Linked DNA regions of Homo sapiens. The protein of the gene in region 3 purifies or fractionates together with the protein of the main gene of each other region. This does not show direct contact. Each region holds a gene or a part of one and is shown on either strand. Other genes may lie near its edges.

Region 1 (7,010 bases), on a different chromosome or scaffold from region 3:
ATCCTCCTGCCTCAGCCTTCCGAGTAGCTGGGATTACAGGCATGCGCCACCATGCCCGGCTAATTTTGTATTTTTAGTAGAGACGGGGTTTCTCCATGTTGGTCCAGCGCTGGTCTCAAACTCCTGACCTCAGGTGATCCAGCCACCTCGGCCTCCCAAAGTGCTGGGATTACAGGCGTGAGCCACCACGCCCAGCCTTGTTGTTTTCTTTTTAAGAGGGTGGGGAGAGGCAGAGGCAAGTGGAATTGGAACCAGGACCTAAAGTCGGCTCCTTTTGCAGCTTGGCTTCTGGGTGGGGTTGATGTCTGAGGGTGGGACCCCAGGGATCCAAGACAGAAGAAAAGCCAGTGTTTCCACTCCCACCTCGCCCTCACCCCAGACAAGCAGGTGATCAGAGGCAGCAACCGGAACTAGTTCTCACCCAAAACTAGTAAACAGGAATCCTACATCGAAATGAGCCCATCTTCTTTACACCAAGGTTGATTCTCCTTACACCTTGTGCACCTTCCCTGGAGCTATGGTTTAAATGTTCCTGCCAAAACTCAAGTTGAAATTTAACTGTCAATGTAATGGTATTAACGATGGGAACTTTAAGAGGAGATTAATGCTCCTATCTCAGGAGTGGATTAGTGATCTCAAGAATGGGCTTCAGAAAAAAGGACAAGTTCAGCCCCCGTTTGATCTCTCTGTCTAGTGTGCTCACTCCGCCTTCCACCTTCTGCCATGGGATGACCCTCCCCAGACGCTGATGCCACGTTTTTGGACTTCTCTGCCTCCAGAACTGTGAGAAATAAGTTTCTTTTTTTATAACTTACCCAGTCTGTAGTATTCTGTTAACAGCAGAAAACATCAGGTGAGGCCAGAACTCTGATGCCGCCCTTGACATCACCTTAGTTCCCTCCTGACTGGATCAGTATGATGTCAAATTAATTGCAATGGTGGGTACTTACTAATTTGCATTTACTTTTCATTACAACATATCCCACAGGATTCCAGGGACCTGGGATGGTCTGTATTCTTGGCAGTTCTCAAGATCTACGAGTCTTATTTCCTGTTAACTTTTTTCCTTTTGCTTGATCCTATCGGGCACATGGATCTTCCTAAAGTTTTGATTCTGTAATTAGTGCTACCATAAAAAACTGTACAATTTTGGAGAGTGTTTTTGCTCAGTCATTCATTTTCTAGTAATATTTGTTGTGTTCCTATCATGTGCCAGGCATTGAGCCAGGCTTGGGGTTCAACTATGAATAGAACAGTCCTGGCTGTCAAAGAGCTTACAGTCTAACAAGGGAGACTGACAAGAAAACAGGCAGTCACAGTGCAGTGTGGTCAGCACTGCATATGTGAGGTGGCATATGCAGAGGGTGGTGGCACCGAAGTGGGGGGCACTACCCAAGCCCAGAGCTTACAGCCTTTTTTTTTTTTTTTTGAGATGGAGTTTCACTCTTATCGTCCAGGCTGGAGTGCAGTGGCGTGATCTCGTCTCACTGCAACCTGTGCCTCCTGGGTTCAACTGATTCTCCTGCCTCAGCCTCCCGAGTAGCTGGGACTGCAGGCATGCGCCACCATGCCCAGCTAATTTTTGTATTTTTAGTAGAGACGGGGTTTCACCATGTTGGCCAGGCTGGTCTCGACCTCAGGTGATCCACCCGCCTCGGCCTCCCAAAGTGCTGAGATTACAGGTGTGAGCCACCGCGCCTGGCCAGAGCTAACTCCTTTATAGCTCTAAAGGTTTATTGCCAGGTTGCTCAGTAGCTTGACTGCTGAGGAAGATTTTCTTTCATTCAATCATTTCAGTGAGTATACTTTTCATTTCTAGATGTTCTGTTTGGCACCTTTTCAAATACACCTGTTTTTTTTTTTCCTTTACAATTCCTGTTCTTTTTACTAGTACTTCCTATTATTTATCTTTGCCTTCATTTGAAACCTACTTCTTTCCTTTTAATTTTCTTTGAGATGGTTCTATTATCTCAAGTTCTTCCTGTTTTGCCCATTCTCTCTCATGATGGCACGTTTCTTTGAGCGGCTCATACATTTTTTATTGTGAGGATTCTTTTTTTCTTCCTCTTGGAGTCTCTGTGAGCCCTGAGTTGTAGAAATACAGCTATTGTGCAGTTTAACATTTGCTTCTGCTTGGTACCCTACGGGTCTAACTGGTTTAGCTGATCTATTTTTCCTTCAATTTCTTCACTTGGAGAAATTGTTCGATCATTTAGAAATACTTTACTGAACATGTACTATGTGCATAGTCCTATATCTGATGTTGTGGAAGATACAAAACAATGCAAGACAACACAAAGTTGCTGCTTCACATGAAACTACAGTTTGAAAGGGCCAAATACAGTATAGGCCCAAAGTTAGGTGACCATGTAAGGCAGAGTAAAAGGCTCAACGGTGAACAGCCAAGTTCAGAAAGAAAAACAGACAGTTGGAGAAAAATGGGGACGAAAAGCCCAAAGAAGGAAAAGGTTCCTGTGAGGAAGTTTCAGAAGGATGGGGAAGTAAATCATCCTCCCCTACCCCCACCCCCCACCCCCAAACTAAAACCTATCGCCTCTTCTGGGTAGAGAGTTAGTGTGGCACTAGGAACTTGACTTTGAGGTCCTTATTGAGAAAGCTAAATCAGAACCTAGGCAAAAGGAAGTCATTTAAGGTGCTCCTGGGGGATGTTTGATGAAAATTGTGTTTGATGGAGAAAACACAGCAAGTTGAAAGGGTTAGCAGGCTTTGCAAGTGATTTCACTAGGACAAGCCTGGGTTAGGGAGGCCAAGGTGAGGGAGAGAGGGAGTGTGGCATGCTTTGAACGTGGAAAGTACATAGTGTTCATTATCAGGAGTGGGAAGAGGGGAGGTAGCTTTTTAGGGGGTAAGGCAGGAAGGGAGTTAGAAAGGACAGACTGGGAAACCCGGACTAACAGTGGCAGGTGTCGATCTAAAGAAATTTCTCACAATGAACTGGCTATAGACTAAGTACAGACAAAGGGACCAGGTCTTCCATTGCTGTGTCCCTGCACACTCTAGGATCCGTTCAAACAGAAACTTTTATTGCGAACCCCCAAAACTAGCACGGTTCTGTTGTAGGTGTTGTTGCAGAGTGTCGGGCACGTTTACAAACAGGAACAGGGCACTTGCTGTCCTATCTTCCTCGCAGGGTTCTTGTGACGATTACACTTAAATCAACACGTATAAAGCATTTTAAAAAGTGCCTGTCACATAGTCCCTGCAATTTAAGGTCTAGTTGTGATTATTCACTTGTATTAACTAAGAATCAACTACAGGCGCCTAGCAGTGCCTGCATGTGCTCACACTGAGGCACTCACTAAAACCCTCAGGATCTAGTGAGGGAGACAGTCAAATACTTTAGAGCAAAACAAATTTTACAACCACGGACTCTGAGGAAGGCGTGCGAAGGCTCCACAGCTGGGGAGGGTGCCCACAGTCGCCGAGGGGACATCTGGATTTGCTCTGGTTGGGAGAGCATTCCTGGCAGAGGAGATGGAAAATGCGATCGGACAAAGAGGCTGGGACCGCGGAGGGGATCGGGCTCGGGGTCGGGGCTCGTCCTGCAGCAGGAGATTCAGCTCGCGCAGAGTTCCACGCAGGCCGCGGCGACTGGGATCTGGGCCGCAAAGGGGCGGGCAGAGAACTGCAGAGAAAACTCCCGAAGCCAGGGAGGTGGCTTGGAAGCGCCTCAGACCATATTGGGGACGTCTGGCAGCCAGAGGCGCCGAACCCCGCCCCCGCGTGCTCTGGGCATCCCGGGGGAGCGCCCCGGCCTGCGGCTGCCGCCACAGCTCCCGAGCCCGGGGCCCCGGCTGCCCGCCACCATTGACCCCCGGCCCGCAGCCCAGTGTCCTGCTAGGCCTCCAACCGGCCGGGGAGCCACATCCGGCGTGTCCCACCCGCCGCACCACGCTCCCGAGCTCCCCCGCGGCCTGGAGTGGTGCGCCCCGGCCCCGCCCCCTGACGCCGGTGAGGGGGCGTGGCCCCGTCACGTGACGGGGAGTGACCTCGCCGCCGGGCGCCATGGGAGCTTCGGACCCGGAAGTGGCGCCCTGGGCTCGCGGCGGTGCCGCGGGGATGGCGGGAGCCGGAGCTGGAGCCGGAGCTCGCGGCGGAGCGGCGGCGGGGGTCGAGGCTCGAGCTCGCGATCCACCGCCCGCGCACCGCGCACATCCTCGCCACCCTCGGCCTGCGGCTCAGCCCTCGGCCCGCAGGATGGATGGCGGGTCAGGGGGCCTGGGGTCTGGGGACAACGCCCCGACCACTGAGGCTCTTTTCGTGGCACTGGGCGCGGGCGTGACGGCGCTCAGCCATCCCCTGCTCTACGTGAAGCTGCTCATCCAGGTGGGGGACCAGAGGCGCCGTAGGGAGATGGGAGGCTGATGTGAAGGTGACAGGCCAGGATTTGGAGGATTGGGGCGGGCAGTCAATGGCGACGGATTTGGGGAGAGGGGTGGGGACGGCGGGTTTGGGGGGCCGAGTGGGTGGGATGGGAGGGAAGCCGTGAGGGAGTTGGGAACGCAGGGGTCACGGGTTTTAGGATACAGAAAGGAGACCAAGGGGTTAGAGTAATAACAGATACGGGAGAGGGTGGAAGGAACAAGCGATTTGGGGGAGTGCCAAGGAGGGAGCGATGGGCTGGAAAAACATATTTGGGAGATAAAGGAGTGGGGACGATGGACTTGGGATAGGGAAGGGAGCGAATTTGGGGCGAGGGAAGAAGCAATAGAATTGGGGGAGGGGCAAGAAGTTTGGGTGAAGAGATGGGGAGGAAGGTTGGGGGCCCAGGCAAAGTGTTTAGAGAATGAGGAGCACATAATTGGGGTAGAGGGGAACGGAGGCTCTGGATTTGATAGAGATGGATTTAAAACGTCTTGGGGTGGGGACAAAGTGGGCGCCAGGGCCAGAAATTTAGGAGGGAAAGAAGGACACCAGACTGGGGGTGGACAGAGGAGACGGAGGTCTTGGGTTGCATTGTGATTTAATTTGGTGGGAGAGTGCGAAGGCAAAGACTTTTGCAGGGGAATGCTATCGGTTTACCGGAGATGGGGGCTCTGGATTTGATGGCGACGACGGATTTGGTAGGAGGAGGGGACAGGGTGACGCGTATGGGGGGAGGGGAACAGATAGGGCCAGCATTGGGGGAGGGGAGTGGCAGCGATTTGTCTAGAGAGGGGAGCTAGGAGGAGGCTTTAAGCGGGGAAGGGGGATGACGCATTTGGAGGAGGAAATGGAAGTCATAGTTGGGGTCAGAGAGAGGAATCACAGTGCTTGTATCTGGGCAGATGAGGAGAAGGGGCACGGGAGTATTGAAATTGGGCAGAAGGGACAGTGGAGACATAGGTGGCAGGATAGGTAGGGACTACCAGAAATTGAGACCGAGGTAGGGATGTCTCTGGAACAGAGGGATGCATAGGCACTTGGCAGATTTGGTGGTGGCCAGCAATGCGGTACAGATGAAGTGTGCTGCTTGAGGAGTGAGCTGGAATGAAGGGCGTGTGGAGGTGTGAGAATTAGGTGGGTGTGGCTGGGATGGGTACAGTTTTGATGGGGGTCATTAGGCCAGAATTTTCCAGTTAAGAAGCTTGGGGGGAGGAAGGTAAAAATTGAATTGGAGACCCATCCAAGATTTGAGTTGAGGCAGGTGGGTGTCAGATTTTACCATCTTTATAATTGAACCGAGAGAATGCAAAATACAACTGGAATGAGAAGGCCTTGAGAATGAGAGTAATTGAAATCTGGGATCCGAGGAATGGTAATAGATTTGTGGGTGTGACCAGGAATATGACAAGGAATGAGGAGATTCAGTCAGGGGCATCAAGGTGCCTGACTAGACCCTAATTGTGACAGATTTGAAAATTGTTGATGGCGGAAGGTGTAGACCAGACTGGCATTTGGTTGTGATTTGGGAATGAGGGCTGTCTTACAGGGTTAAGATTGTATTTACAGCAGTTGAACTTGAAGTTTGGGAGATAAATTGGTGCTTTGGACCTGAGAAGTGAGGGTTCTGGAAACTGATGGAATGAGACTGAGTGAGGGCTAGGATTTTAGGGCACAGGTGGGAGAGTCTGTGGAGTGAAGGATACTGGAGCACAAGGGCTCAGTGTGAGGGAAATGAAGAAGTGGCTTCATCATTTGGATGATGGCAGATCTGGTTTGAAAGAACATTGAAATGAGGGTGGTTTGGGAAGGGAATGGGGGAATGAAGGACACCAAAGCGTGAGAAGAACTAGATGGTGGGCAGGTAAGGATGGATGAGCCCTGTTGAAGGACCAGAGGTGCCTGTCTGATTTGAACCCAGCTGGTGTTGAGTGTAACATATATTAGGGTAAGATCTTCAATGGGTATAGTTTGGGAATCAGAGTAATAACTTGCAGAAAGGCAAATTACTGGGAGTGGGGGTGTCAGGAGTGGAGTGACAGATTTGGGGATTGTCTAGATTAGGTGCGTAAGAATGCAGTGCCTTAGATTAGTGCATGTGGCTGTCAGGTTTGGGAGTCGGAGATTTTAAGATGACAGACTGTCCCTGCTGGTATCTGATATAGGGCCACAGCATTTGCCGTAGTTAGGACTGGGTTAACAGATTTGAGGTTGAAATTGGGTTTAATGACTTGGGAACAAATAATTAAAACTTGAAGGCAGGAGGAATGGGGGTGAGATACAGCCAGTGTGCCTATGATAACCCAATAGAAGTTAAGAAAATAGATTCAACAGATTTGGGAGCCATGGGGATATGGGATAACGTTACAAATTTAAGTATGAAATTGGGGTCAGTGGGACTCCCAAATAGTGTTGACTAAACTGGATAAGGACAGCAAAAGAGCAGTTGTGGCGATTTGGAGTGGAGGAATAAAGGAATACCACCTGTATTTAAGAGAACACAGATCAAGACAAAACTTAATTCAGAACAACCTTGGAGCTTTTAACCCAGAAGGGAAAAGGTCTAGAAGGGAAGTACTCACTGCCTGGGTCAGCTGACTCACCCCTTTCCTCCTTTGCTCCACTGG
Region 2 (7,024 bases), on a different chromosome or scaffold from region 3:
GGGAAGTAAACTGAGCAGGGAGCAGTCAAATTTCCAAAGAGCAGGTACAGGCAATGAGAGTCACAAAGTATGGAGCAGAAGTAACTTCCCCACTAGGAGACATGAACCTCTTTTGGATCAATCGAGTGGAAAATACTCATCTATGCCAAATATAAGTGTGAGATGTAGCTGCACAAAGTAGAATGTGAAAGGCCCAGACAGAATCACAAGATGCAAAAAGGAGGGATGGATGGTGCTTATATCTCAGTTTTTCCTTAAAAACATAACTCTTACAATGTCAACTTACCATTTGAAGGAATCCCAAAATCCAGATTCATTCTCACTCGTTCCATCACTCAGCAAGTCTTCGTTCACCATATCTGCCTTCTTCTGAACCTGCAATCAAATGTGATAAACCTTACTCCCAGTATGTCTCACAGGCATAAAACTGCCTCTCACTGGATATACACTGTGAGCCTGTCATCAATAGGGAATTATCAATCAATTCTCTCACAAACAGGCACAACCCCACCCAGAGTCTAGAAGGATTCAATAGAAGTATCTTCGCCAGGACATTCACATCATAACCTTATGTGAGGAGACAGCAACCTCTTTTAATTAGATGAACCCCATTTTCAGCTTGCAACATAGGCAAAGAGCCGCAAACTCAACTGTGCAGTGAAACCAGAAGCACGATTCAATGAGTCAACAGCTAGTTCCAGGGAAGAGTGTGGCTGCTGGGGGCTCTAGCTGTTGGGAGGGAGGTATTTCATGTTATGACCAGTTTTCAGGATTCACTAGCACAAACAGGGGTTTCTTCTTGGCAGTACAGTGACCATTTTTCTTCTCAACAATGGATGGCCTATTTTAGGTTTCACTGTGTGTAATGATTCTTTCTTCAAGAATATACTGTACTTGAATTTAAGGCACTAAGAGCTTCAACATTCAGAGAACGGAAAGTACAAGTCAAAAGAAATTAAATAGGACTATCATTTTATTATTGTTGAAAATTTCCATTGCCAGTTCCCCCAATATTGAGAAAAGAATCATCAACAACACTATGAATTGTGGCTATATAAACAACATAGCATCTATGAGAATATTTTATATAAGATGGGACATGTTCTGCACACCGAGATTACCCAAAAGGTACAATCTTTCAGTTGAGGGAAGCCACAAACTCACAGTTACAAAGACATTTTGCCTTAAAGCAGTATCCCTATAATTGCCATAGCAAATTCCAAAGAGACTCTTGGGCTGGTTCCAAGATACATATTTTTAAATGACAGCTGTCCAATAACAGAATGCCACTACTTTTACCAAACTCACCTTCACTTTAATAATTTTGCTTTTGAAGTTGTTGAGGACGATAACCACCTCATCAGCATCAGGGGGAGAATCAGTGCCATCGTGGCTTTGCGAGAAAAGAAAGATCAATATTACAAGGCACAATTCTCAAAAGGCAGCAAATGCTCTCAGAGCATCTGAGTCCATCATCCTTCTCATAAAGGAGTTTTCCAGATCCAGCTATCTTCTTGCTCCTTAAGCTCCTTCGAGCTGCACAGAAGCACGTGTTGAAACCTCTCTTTATATAAGGTGCATGCCCAAACCTCCTTTGTGAGTCCTCTTGCAAATTACCCATCACGTAGTGAGAGGCACCCATGTGTGGTAACCACATGGTGAGTACTAAACAACCGCCTGTGTTCACAAGCTCTGAGCCAAGCACAGAGCCTTCGATAAAGGAATGCAGGGAACAGGCCCCCTGAACCATTATTGGAACCACACTGCCTCCGCTCTTTTTTTTTTTTTTTTTTTTTTTTGAGACAGAGTTTTGCTCTGTTGCCCTGGAGTGCAGTAGAGCAATCTCGGCTCAATGCAACCTCCACCTCCGGGGTTCAAGTGATTCTCCTGCTTCAGCCTTCAGGTAGCTGAGTTTACAGGCACCCACCACCACGCCTGGCTAATTTTTGTATTTTAGTAGAGACAGGGTTTCACCATAGTGGCTAGGCTGGTCTCAAACTCCTGACCTTAAGTGATCCACCCTCCTCGGCCTCCCAAAGTGTTGGGATTACAGGCGTGAGCCATCACCCATCACTCCCGGCCACTACTCTTTAACTGGAATAGTGTTGTAAAGGAAATCTGCTCGCTCTTTCTGCCGGAGGCAACAATCAGTCAACAATAGGCCCTGTACTCAACCTGGTGTCTATACGCTACCAGAAAAACTGTAACAAATTCTATTTGCAGGCAGACAGGAGCAGAGGAAGAAAAATTAAATGTATGTTTCCCTACTAATCAACAGCAATGCCTAAAATTTCCAGTCACCAAATTTCAAGGTGCAGAAAGTCATAATTACAACATGAATTCACTGCATTTGCTGTCATCTAGCAGAGAGTAGGGTTCTCAGGCAAAGGAAGATTCTAATGGGGGTGGGGCCCTGAACAGCTAGGAAGAGGGGGCACCATGCTCCTGGGAAGGGGAGGGCTGGCAAGGGCCAGGGCATCCAAAAGGGAAGGAGTTCGGAAGTGCATCCCAAATTTTGTAAAACCTTATCTGAGGAAAATGTTATGTGGGAAAAAACCTTCTACTGTTTACAATGGTGTTATTATAATACAGAATTCTTCTATTTCCTGGGTAAGAACCAGGCACTAATCCACTGTTTCATGTGTGTCGCTACGGAGCTAATTAAGGCAAGGACATACTACAGAGTGCTTCAAATGTGCCCTAATGGAAATCATCCCCTACACAACCTGACGGGAAGCCTCTTCACACAGTTTAAAACTAATTTAAATTGTGTTAAGCAGAATTTATATCAAACTTTTTTAAAGGCAACATAATTATTTTTAAACTAATAAATATGTGCAGTAAACCTTAAGGTAAAAGCTGGCTATAGAGGGAATGTTCTTACTATGCCACCACAGACCAAGGAATACCAGCACTAACAGCACAGCTTCAAGACCAAAGCTTCCATGTACTGTGCATTTGCAAATCACTCAGGGTCAACACATACACTCTCTGGGCAGAAAAGTGTGGCTGTTCTTTCTTTCTTTTCTCCTTTCTTCAAGTTTCTCATCTGCCTATCTATGAGCCGCATCACACTGATAGAATGATTTGATTCTGGGATATTGTTAGCACAAAGGAATAATTAAAGAATAAAGCCTGACTATACTCATTAGCATCTATACCTCTTATTATCTAATTCTATTCTAACAATTCTTCCATATTTAATTTCCTGGAAAAACCACTGTTTCATCACATACAACTGCAAATTAAATTCATGTTGCCTGGCTAACTGCCAGGGTAGTATTCAATTAGAGCTAATGCTCATTTCTAAAAGTTCTGGGATAATGTAACTGCATCACTTACTCCTACCTGTAAATTCTATAAATATCTTCAGAGCGTCCCTTCCTAAGTCTGAGGATCCAAGCTCCTGGGTTGGCTTTCAGCTGAAAGTAGCCCTAGGACAAGAAGAAAAGTCCAGTTAGCTCTCTTCAAAACACCAAAATGTTATTTCTGAGGAACAGTTACTTCTATTTCTGAAATATCAATCAACTATAATGTGAATAACACAGTAAACAAATCAATGCAACTCTTAAAAAACCAAAACTACACATTAAAAACTCTAGCACAGACCAGGTGCGGTGGCTCACGCCTGTAATCCCAGCACTTCGGGAGACCACGGCAGGTGGATCAACTGAGGTGAGGAGTTCGAGACCAGCCTGGCTAACATGGTGAAACCCCATCTCTACTAAAAAAGGACAAAAATTAGCCGGGCATGGTGGTGGGTGCCCGTAATCCCAGCTACTCAGGAGGCTGGGGCAGGAGAATTGCTTGAACCTGGGAGGCGGAGGTTGCAGTGAGCTGAGATCACACCACTGCACTCCAGCCTGGGCAGGAGTCTCAAAAAAAAAAAAAAAAAAACTAGTACAATAAAGGCCAGTCACACCAATAAATCATCTGCTCTTTAGCTGTGCTTCAGGGAAGAATCAACGTGTGATGCATGAATAAGTGTTGCACTTCCAAAGAAAAGAAAAAGGCTGTCAGCTCATGAGCAATCTATTTTCAGGGGGCCAATTCAGTTATAGCTGAGTATTCCAGCATGTTTTTTCTTTTGACATGTAATTCTAACCTACAAATTTAGCTGAACTAATGATTTCTATATTGACCAAATTCAGCCCATAATGAATTTTAATCTCACTCTATGGTTAAGAATGCTAATTGCTCCATCATAAATTATAGTGCCCAAATTAACGTAACTACAATATCACTATCTGATGAACAGATTATTTACCAGATTGGCCATAACAATGGTGTCCACAATGACCGGGTTGGCTGAAGTTCCTAAGGTAAACTGTAGTCCCCGTGGAGGCTGGCCTGTGGTGATGTCGTAGCAATGACCTTCCAGTAACAGGTATTCCAGCTCATACTCAGCAGCCACTACACTGTCCACCTGCAAGCCAAAATCCAATCACTTGAATGCACTCAGAGACAACATGAATAAATCTGAAATGCATTATGCAAAGTAAAGGAAGCAGACAAAAAGGACTTACATAATATATGATCATATTTTAAGAAATTCAAGAAAAGACAAAAGTATAATGACAGAAAGCAGATCAGTTGTTGCCTGAAACCAGGCGAGAGGAGGCTACTGTCTGCAAAGGGGTATAAAAGAACTTTTTGGGGTAATGGAAATGTTCTGCATCGTGGCTATAGTGGTGGTTAATGACTGTATACAATTATAAAAACTAGGTTGGAAAGAGAAAGGAGAAAAAAACAATAAGGACGTTATTCTAAAAATACGAACGAGGATAAGATACTAAATGTTGAAAAAAATTAAAGACCTAAATGCAAAGACATCCTGTACTCACGTATCAGTAGAAAAACTTGCACACAACATTCATAGCAGCATTATTCATAACAACCAAAAAGTGAAAACAACTCAAATGTCCATTCGTGAAAGGATAAATGAAACGTGATATGTCCATAAATAAAATATTATCTGGCAAGTTAAAAAGAGTGAAGCGTCGATACATACTACAGCATGGATGGATCTTGAAAACAATTTGTTATGTGAAAGAAGCCAGTTACAGAAGACCACATTTGATTCTATTTAGACAAAATGTCAGAATAGGCAAATCCATAGAGATACAAAGTAGACCAGCAGTTGCCAGGGGCTGGGGAAATGAAGAGTGACTGCTAATGAGTATGGGGCTTTCACTGGGGATGCTGAAAACATCCTACAATTACATAGTGGTGATGGCTGCACAACTCCGTGAAGATACTAAAACCTCTCAACTGTACACGTTAATGGGGAGAATTTTATGGTATATGAGTTCCATGTGAATAAAGCTGTTGTTTAAAAAAATATCATACCTGAACACTGATGTCTCAGAGGCCCACCTAGACTATGATTCAATCTGCTGTATTATACATGATTAGGTATTTGGAAGCAATAGATATGGTCTTACCTCTTCTAAATAAATATTATCAAGATCATATGGTGTTCTGACAGATTCTACCATCCAGCTCTCAGGTGTGTTCAAATTCAGAGTGAACAGTGGAGACTGAGGCATATCCAAAAATTTTGCGATTGGACCCTTAGCAAAACTATTGTCTGAAGTGAAAGAAATCTCTGGTTCTAAGACATAACGGTAAAAGCTGAAATTGAAAAGGAAAGTGTTAGATAATTTTCGATGTGACAACAGGACTTGAGTGCACAGCCCTTACACAGGTAACAACTGGTTAAAACAAATTAGATTTGGAGGAGTACCCTTCCAGATTGGGAAAAGTGTTTCCAAAACCATCTTTGACCTTATGATGCCTCCTTGTGGTTGCTGCAGATGCAAGAAAAGGCAAACAAGGACAGCACTGAGGAGGAGTGCTCAGTGGTGGCCTGTGGTGATGTCGTAGCAATGACCTTCTAGTAACAGGTACTCTAGCTCATACTCAGCAGCCACTATACTGTCCACCTGCAAGCCAAAATCCAATCACTTGAACGGAGGCCACTCGTTCACATGGATGGCTGTCAGGGTCACAGTTAGGTCCTGGGCATTTTCCTCCCTTCAAGGAGGACTCATTTTTCTCTTTAAAACCAATTCCTAAATACTGATTGGGCTCTCAGGCTAGTCCTGAAAACACTAATAATGTAAACATTTCCCCTATACGAGAATAATGGTGGAAGCTGGGAACCCTTTGGTTACTTTCAAATGCTGTTTCAATCCACTTAGAAGCTAACCTATAAAACACAGCACACTGGCAAGTTAGAAATTTCCCATAGCCACAACGCTAACTGCTTTCTGTATCACTTTTTTCATAAATGACCATTCCAAAGCTCATGACAATATATAGCTAAGCAAGCTTCCTCTAACATGTATATTCCAACTTGAAATGAATATTCTTCTTTTAAGATGAAAAGCACAAATGGGGCCAGGCGTGGTAGCTCACACCTGTAAACCCAGCACTTTGGGAAGTGAGGCAGACGGATCACTTGAGGTCAGGAGTTCGAGACCAGGCTGGTCAACATGGTGAAACCCCGTCTCTACTAAAAATACAAAAATTAGCTGGGCATGGTAGTGTGCACCTGTAATCCCAGCTACTAAGGAGGCTGAAGCAGGAGAATCCCTTGAACCCGGGAGGCAGAGGCTGCAGTGAGCCAAGATCATGCCACTGCACTCCAATCTGGGCGACAGAGCGAGACTCCATCTCGAAAAAAAGAAAGAAAAGGCACAAATGCAAGCAGCCTGGGTTAATGCCACCTAAATGCTACAAACACACTATGTTCTTAGAACTTCTGATTAGAATGAAATTTGGCAAAACTGAACATTTAGTAAATGACCATTTCAAACATGATGTCCACCTATAAATCCATCTGATCCTCTAACATGCAATATCAGAACTTGGATTCAGTACAATTTCTTCAACTGTTTTCTTACATAGCATGTTTTACCTTTTTAAAGGCATGTCAGAAAGTTTGGATTGGCAGTTCATAAATACTCTCAGATTCATGTTTATCAGCTGAGCCAAAACCTAGAAGGAAAACCAGATGACA
Region 3 (7,024 bases):
ATGATTTGAAAGTTTGTTATGAGAGAATTATGCTTTGTCAAGCCAACTATAAGGCAGCTTTCTACAACAGTTCTGCAAAATGTTTCCACCACACTGAGCAAAGCTGACACTAGACACTAGCTACACGTGGGAATAGGAAGATGGGCCAGGCTCAGAGCCGCCGCAAAGGATGAAGTCCACTCAGATTTGAGGCAATCCTGGGGCAAAGCACTGAGCAAAGCAACTTCTCTGGTAATCTCCTCCTCAGCCATTCTCTACCCAGTATTTCAGAACACAGAACAGAAGAAACTGCAAAAGCCCTGCAGGATATATCACAGCTGTTAACATTCTGACTTTAAAAAAAAAAAAAAAAAACAAGTAACCTTTGAAACTGGCTCAAAGAACCTTCTGGCATCCAGCCCCACAAACCACTGACTACATAGCATCAAACTTTGGACGGGGTAGTCTGGAAGCTCAACAACCAGGATTAATATGTACTAACTCACTCACCCTCAGTCTCACCCACTGGTATTAATTCCAGTACCCAGAAGTCAAGTGGGTTTGTGACTTAACATAAAACACGTTTCCTGACAGCCTGTGGCCCCTGGGAAGCACCTGCAGCATTGTGTAGTTTGCAAGCATGAGATCCCTATTCCCTATTCCAGGAGCATGAGGAGGAAGGAACACCCAGGCTTGCTCGAGTGACAGGCAAAGTGCCTCATTAAGAGAACACTGGAGTGCTTACCCACCACTGCCGCCACAGAAGCCAGAGCGGGAGAGGAGGGGAGCGCCAAGAGAAATCACAGGCAGGAAGAACTCACCTCCTTCTCTGAGATGCTCTATTTTCCCAAATGGGTCACTAACAGTCCCACCTGTTTGCCCAGAGACAAAGGTACAAGTATGCTCGTGTGTGCATGCATGCATGTGTGTGTAATTAACATTTTCAATGAGTCAGTGAAAACATTTAAAATATATATATATATTATTCTCAAAGTTTTCTATTCAGTAGATGGGACACTGTTAATAAACAGAATAATGCTTCTGAAATGAAAAAAGGTAAAATAGAAGCATTTTATTTTTTCTATTTTAAAACAATTGTTGTAATAAATGTTTAAGAGATAGAGATGGCACGTTTATTACTGAAAATACTCTTTTCAAAAATCTCAAAGAACTGAACTATATAAAACCATAACACTTAAAATTTTCAAGAAGGAATAAGATTTCTCCCTTTTGACTAAAAATGCAACATAAACTTAGACAGTGCTTATTTCTAGCTTTGAAAAGATGTACATGAAATCCTTAGAGGTGGGAAAACAGTGACAGGTGAGAACCGTGCTATGTGAGGCTGGAAGTTTTAGGGATTTCCTACCTTTTTTACTAGAATGCGTTTCCACCCATGACGCTTCATGGAAGCCAGACTAAGAGTCAACCCTGCTGCACTGTGTAAGAGTAGCAGGTGTGTATCAGTGTGAGTTCAAAGAGAGATGTTCTGGCTAAGAAAATAATAACAAAAAAACAAAGGCATTTTAGCACAACTTCCTCCTTCTACATGCTTACTTTTACAGGATGAAAGGCAAAGACTGGCCAAGCAATTTCCATCCCCCTTTCACCACGGTCTCACCATGTGGCTAAACAGGCCTCCTGAAACCATAGCAGTAGCTGCGACATCCAGTGCCCCAAACCAAAACCAATATAAGGCACTAATCTAAAGCCTGTATTACACAGAGAAATGGCTCAAGGATGCTAAAAGTCATGTGATCATTTCTTTCTCCCTGATTTAGCTAATTGGCACTAGACACAGAAAACAGAAACAAAACAGAACTCTAACCCAAATATGGTCAGAAGTGAGAATCCTTGCTTAGGAAATATGAGAAAGATGGAAGCTCAGACAATCTTAGGTATTGTTCTCTCCCTAAAAGGCACCTGATTCTGGAACTATGGGAGTTCCTCAGGTAAGTTCATATTCAAAATGCAAAATACCACCCAAAAGATGTCAGTTAACCTCTTAGACCATAACATAATAACCTAAGAGACTATCTGTTAAGAATTCTGGTTAAGACCATTCTTCTTAAGCAAATAATTTGTAACACTGTAAAGATTACTTGAGGCAAACATGAAAAACTGGATGACTTTTTCTCCCATGTGATCCAAAATCACGGTTGGATATCAGGGGAAGACCCCAATTATCTAACAACAGAAAGGATGACATTTTCAATGCAATTAAATAGGGATACCAAATGAACCATGGGCCCTTTTGCAGAAATTTCATTCTCAATCCTCTAACAAAGAAGTAGCTAGCCAGGTACAGTGGTGCTCACCTGTAATCCCAGCTACTCGGGAGGCTGAGGCAGAAGGATCACTTGAGCCCAGGTAACCCTGTCCCAAAAAAATATCAAGACCCTGTCTCAAAAAAATAAAATATAATAAAAAAAATTTTTTAAAGACATAGCAATACTCCAGTATAGCAGGTGCCAGCAAAGTGAAGAGACTTAGGTTCTGAAGTATAAAGCTGTGAACATCAATCCAAAGATGCCCCATCTATTGTGCTTATAACATCAACATGTCATAAGAGGGCAATTTCCATGTATCTTCTCACTTCAAATTATATCCTTAACAGGGCATTTTATTGAACAGGAGAGAAACACTGAAGTGTGCAAGGATTAACCAGACGTGGTGAGGTGTTGCACAGAAATTCCTACACCACCATGGACAGCAAGACTTCTGTCCCCTTTCATTTCAGACTGGACTTTGGCATGGTCTGGGTTTGGTCGTTAAGGTCTGGTTCAAGATGAGGCCTCACAGAGAGCAGATCAAATCAAACCAACCATCTGGTCAATCTGTCGCATGTAGATGCTCTTTAAGGGCAGGGAGTACCTCCTCTCATCAGGTACACGATTGCACTAGAAAGACAAAAACGAGGGAAAATTAAAAACTCATATGTTGCTCTCTCAGGAAATGTGACTGGATGACTTAATCCAGGGTTTCTCAGCCTGTGAACTACTGACGTTTGGAAGTAACTGTTGTGGAAGCTGCCTGTACACTGCAGGACGGTCAGCAGCACCCCTTGCCTCTCCCACTAGGTGCCAGTGGCAACTCCTACGCCTCAGCTGTGAAAATCAAAAACGTCTCCAGACGCTGTTCCAATGTTCCCTGAGGAGCAAAATCACCCTCAGGTGAAGACCAGTGACATAATTTAACATCCTCACTCACTTTATAAAGAAATGGCAGATCCAGGGAAGCTAAAAGGCATCGCAGCAACTGCTTCGTGGCCAGGACTGAAAGCCACATCCCTGGGGTCCTTAGTCCGCCCAGAATTTCAGAAAACATTTCTGCTACTTGAAAATACTGTGTTTTTCTGAGCTATGTTTTTCTCATTCACAACTCACTAAACTCTAAATGCTTAAGACTATTTCTTTAATTAAAACCCCCCCACCCCCACCACTTTTTTTCCTCAAAGCAGATGCACATCTTGAGAACTAACCAACTGTGACATCCCTGGAAGCAGTTGTCTAAATACATTCATTATCTGCTTCATCTCCAAAGAAACATTTTCCCCACGCTTTGTAGTAAGTTGAACTTACTACACCCTGCTCCTCATCCCTGGCAAGATCAAGACTGGCCGGTCCTTCCATTGGTCCCGACTGCCCCCACCAGCCCACATCTCTGTGCTTTTGCAGGTGCTACTGCTTCTGCCTGAACACCCTTTCTGGGATACCCCTTTTCATCCTTCAAGGATCTCCAGCAAGTGACCTCCTCAGGGAATCCTGCCTTGATTTTCTCTGGAGATTACTCCCTACCCTCTGTGTTTCAACAGCACTACAGACAAACGCCTAGGATGGAAGTGGATTCCCCACTAGGCCATGCTCCTATCCAGAACCGGGAGCCCTTCTGAGGGCCTGAATCCCTGGTGCCTGGAATCATGGGATCAGATCTATTAGTGAGTATGGCAGGTCAGAGATGTCTCCTTCCTAAAAGAGAAGACACTGCCTGGGTCCAAATCCTGGCTCCACTGTGGGACCTGAACCTCTCTGTGCCTCCCTTTCTTCAGCTGTAAAATGGAGATGTTAAAAGTAACCACCCCTCACAGGGCTGTTGTTAGAAGTAAACAGATTAATGTACGTAAGCGTTTAGAATGGTGCAAAGGCTAACCCTGGTATGTGTTTGCAAATGCTGGCTGTTATTAACTCTTCCCCCTCTCACCCTCCTTCCCCTTCCTCCCGATTATGCTTTGTCCACTCAATCAGCGCTCCATGACTGATGGAAATGGGGGCGGGGGTGGTTATCTACACTCTGGCCTATCGATTTACTTCATAGACTGATGGTGAAGACCTTCACTGGGGCATTAACGGAAAAGCACTGAAGCACAGTCGGCGATGAGAGGGCACCCCTAATGCCAAGGCAACCCATCTGTGGGGAGGCTGCCGAACTCCTGACCACCAAGGCCCTGGGGGATAACAAGATTTGAAATTTTGACTGACCTACATTTCCCTATCCTCACTTCCAAATCATCCTATTTGATTCAAATCAACACAACTACCTGATACTTTCACTAGGGATGCAAGGACTTCCATTTCCAAATTTTTCCTGCTGCTTCTCAGGACAATCTAGGCATGTGGAGTAAAGCCCCACTTTAAATGAATGTGGGTGTTTGCTGCACTTCGAAGAGCATCTTCATTGGGACCATCGTGACCATCACTGCTTTTTTTCCCTTCTGCTGCTGGTAAATGATTTTGCTGAATGTCTTCCATTTGCCCCTCCAGGTCCACTGATGGATCATATCAACAGGCTCCCTCGGCCTCCAGCTTCTGCCCCAGGCAGCCAAGAAGATGCTCCAGCAGGCAACTGGGGGAGCGGGGAGGGGTCACATGTTGACTCTGCCGGCTCCCTCCAGGCAAGGCCTTGAAAGTCAGATCTGAGCCGTGGCTCCTGCTGAGTGCTCGCTCCTCCCACAAGGCTCCCCCCTTCCAGGATCCTGTAGCCACTCTCCCCACCAGCACCTGCAGCCAGCAGTGATGATGCCACCGCTGCTCCTGCGGTTTCCCTATACCCTGACAACAGCTATGTAAATGGTGTCTTTAGGAGGTGTTTTCAAATCTCCCAATCTGCATACACCATCAATTTTCTGTCAGGAAGTCTGAACAACTAAGCAATTCATAGTATCTTCTCTTCCTCTATATGCAAATCACCCCTGGAAAAAGCAACTCACGTTGGAGCTGGAGTTGATGACTTTTAACTCATGAGGTTTCGGCCTGTGCACAGACTTTCCCCCTTGGTCCTGCCCTCCCTCTTCAGAGAAGAATTCCTTCCATGGCAATTCCCGAAGATGCTCATCCACAGATACAATGTGTCCCTCTGTTGTGAACATGTATCTGGTTCCAGACTTGTGTACTGGATTGTCTTCATCAAACAGCTAGAGGGAACGGAGAAAAAGATACAACCAATAATTGTAGCACACTGGGAACTGAATCATGGGGGCGTGTCCCAGCTACTCAGGGAGTAGAATTTGCTTGGGCCTCATGCTTCTCAGTGACAACTGGGTGAAAAGGAATTGACTGACAACTGTGGTGCCCAACCCAGGCTGCAAGGCAGAATCACCTGCTTCATCTAAACTCAGATGCCCAGACCTGCCTCTCCCCTACACATACCCTGCCCAGACGCAGAGACTCAGAAATTCTGAAACTAAGGCCCAAGCACAGGTAGTCTATAAAAGTTCACTGGATGATTTCCATGTGCTACCTAAGAGTTCTCCTGCTGGAATTCTAGAACTACACCCAACCTCACACACACCTAGACCCTGAACTGTAAATGCTGACAGGGAGGGACCAAGTTTTATCCACCACCATTTCCCCAGGGCCTAGCACAGAGCCCAACACATCTGCCAACATTCACTTCACTTCTTGCACAACAAGGGTTGGGCTCTGAAGACGCAATGGACACAAGGCACAGTCCTTTCCCTCAATGGTGCATGTGACACGGAACGAAAGAGCATCTAGAAAGAACATCTAACCCAATATGGGATGCAACAGTGCAGGAGAAGGCAAGTGTTCTGTGAATGTTGAATGAATGAATACCTAGAAACTCTTTGAAACTTTATTGGTCACCTAAACTATTTCAAGATGAGGAAAAATGAGATTCAGTGCAGCTTGTCAATGTTTACACAGTAACAAGAGAAGAACAGGGTAGACCACAGGTTTTCCTCTCCCCAGACTCTAGGTTCTTTCAGCTAGCACACCCTCCAGGGTCACCTTCCTTTTACTCTAAAACTCGCCCTGTTAACGTCCTTCTGACACCAGTGGCTGCTGGATGGAAATATGTAGCTAGGCTCTGACCAGCCTGATTTAGCAGAACTGAGCCACCTGCAAGGAGAGCAAGAACCACTGCACACACAGGAATCGACAGCAGGACAGCTGTCTTCCCACTGGACAGATCACATGGGCTGCTGGTGGACATACCTCTGCAGTCATCTGTGAAAAGACCCCAGACAGAGAAGAGTATCGTCTTAATGGATTAGACCAGCAGCTCCAAAACCTGGCTCATGTGAAACCACTGGAGGCACTTGTCAAAATGACAGATTTCTGAGCCCGCTTATTCTGAAGATTCTGACTTAATATGGCTGTCATCTTAGCAAGGGCCCCAGGGTGATTTGGACCCAGCTAGCCCCAGGCCTAGGAACCACGGAACTAGATAAACACAATTTATCACAGCTGCTTCTATCTCTGACCCTCTGCCCAAGTTCTCAGTTGCCATGCTATCTTCTAACCTGGAAATCCTGCCCTCTGTTTCTATGTGGCCATACTGAGGAAAGTGGCAGGGGGCACGAGAGTGGCTGTATGCACGAGGCAGAGCGGTGAGATGGAAAGAGCACCAGACAGGGAGTCAGGACCACAGTTCACACCTCAGCTCTGCCACAGCCATCGCCATACTTTGAGCAAGTCGCCTGACCTCTGTGTAGGCTGTAGTTCTTGTGAGGGAAATGATGAACATATGAACATTAGGTAATACCAAAGGGTTCGTCCAGGTCCAGAAATTCTCTCTCTCTACACAC

What was found.
Region 1: the proteins of EDEM1 (region 3) and MTCH1 purify together in Homo sapiens (affinity purification with mass spectrometry; 2 studies listed by BioGRID and IntAct, with this or other methods). This does not show direct contact.
Region 2: the proteins of EDEM1 (region 3) and UGGT1 purify together in Homo sapiens (affinity purification with mass spectrometry, with the first as the bait; 2 studies listed by BioGRID). This does not show direct contact.

Annotation. Positions count from the first base shown.
Region 1 is NC_000006.12:36,983,190-36,990,199, reverse strand, and holds the start of MTCH1 (mitochondrial carrier homolog 1), read left to right. Parts: upstream 1-4,003; 5' UTR 4,004-4,026; coding exon 4,027-4,347; intron 4,348-7,010.
Region 2 is NC_000002.12:128,171,183-128,178,206, reverse strand, and holds part of UGGT1 (UDP-glucose:glycoprotein glucosyltransferase 1 precursor), read right to left. Parts: intron 7,003-7,024; coding exon 6,923-7,002; intron 5,635-6,922; coding exon 5,445-5,634; intron 4,427-5,444; coding exon 4,268-4,426; intron 3,435-4,267; coding exon 3,349-3,434; intron 1,394-3,348; coding exon 1,309-1,393; intron 376-1,308; coding exon 287-375; intron 1-286. UniProt on the Homo sapiens protein: Recognizes glycoproteins with minor folding defects. Reglucosylates single N-glycans near the misfolded part of the protein, thus providing quality control for protein folding in the endoplasmic reticulum.
Region 3 is NC_000003.12:5,211,684-5,218,707, reverse strand, and holds part of EDEM1 (ER degradation-enhancing alpha-mannosidase-like protein 1), read right to left. Parts: intron 5,390-7,024; coding exon 5,186-5,389; intron 2,880-5,185; coding exon 2,790-2,879; 3' UTR 1-2,789. UniProt on the Homo sapiens protein: Extracts misfolded glycoproteins, but not glycoproteins undergoing productive folding, from the calnexin cycle.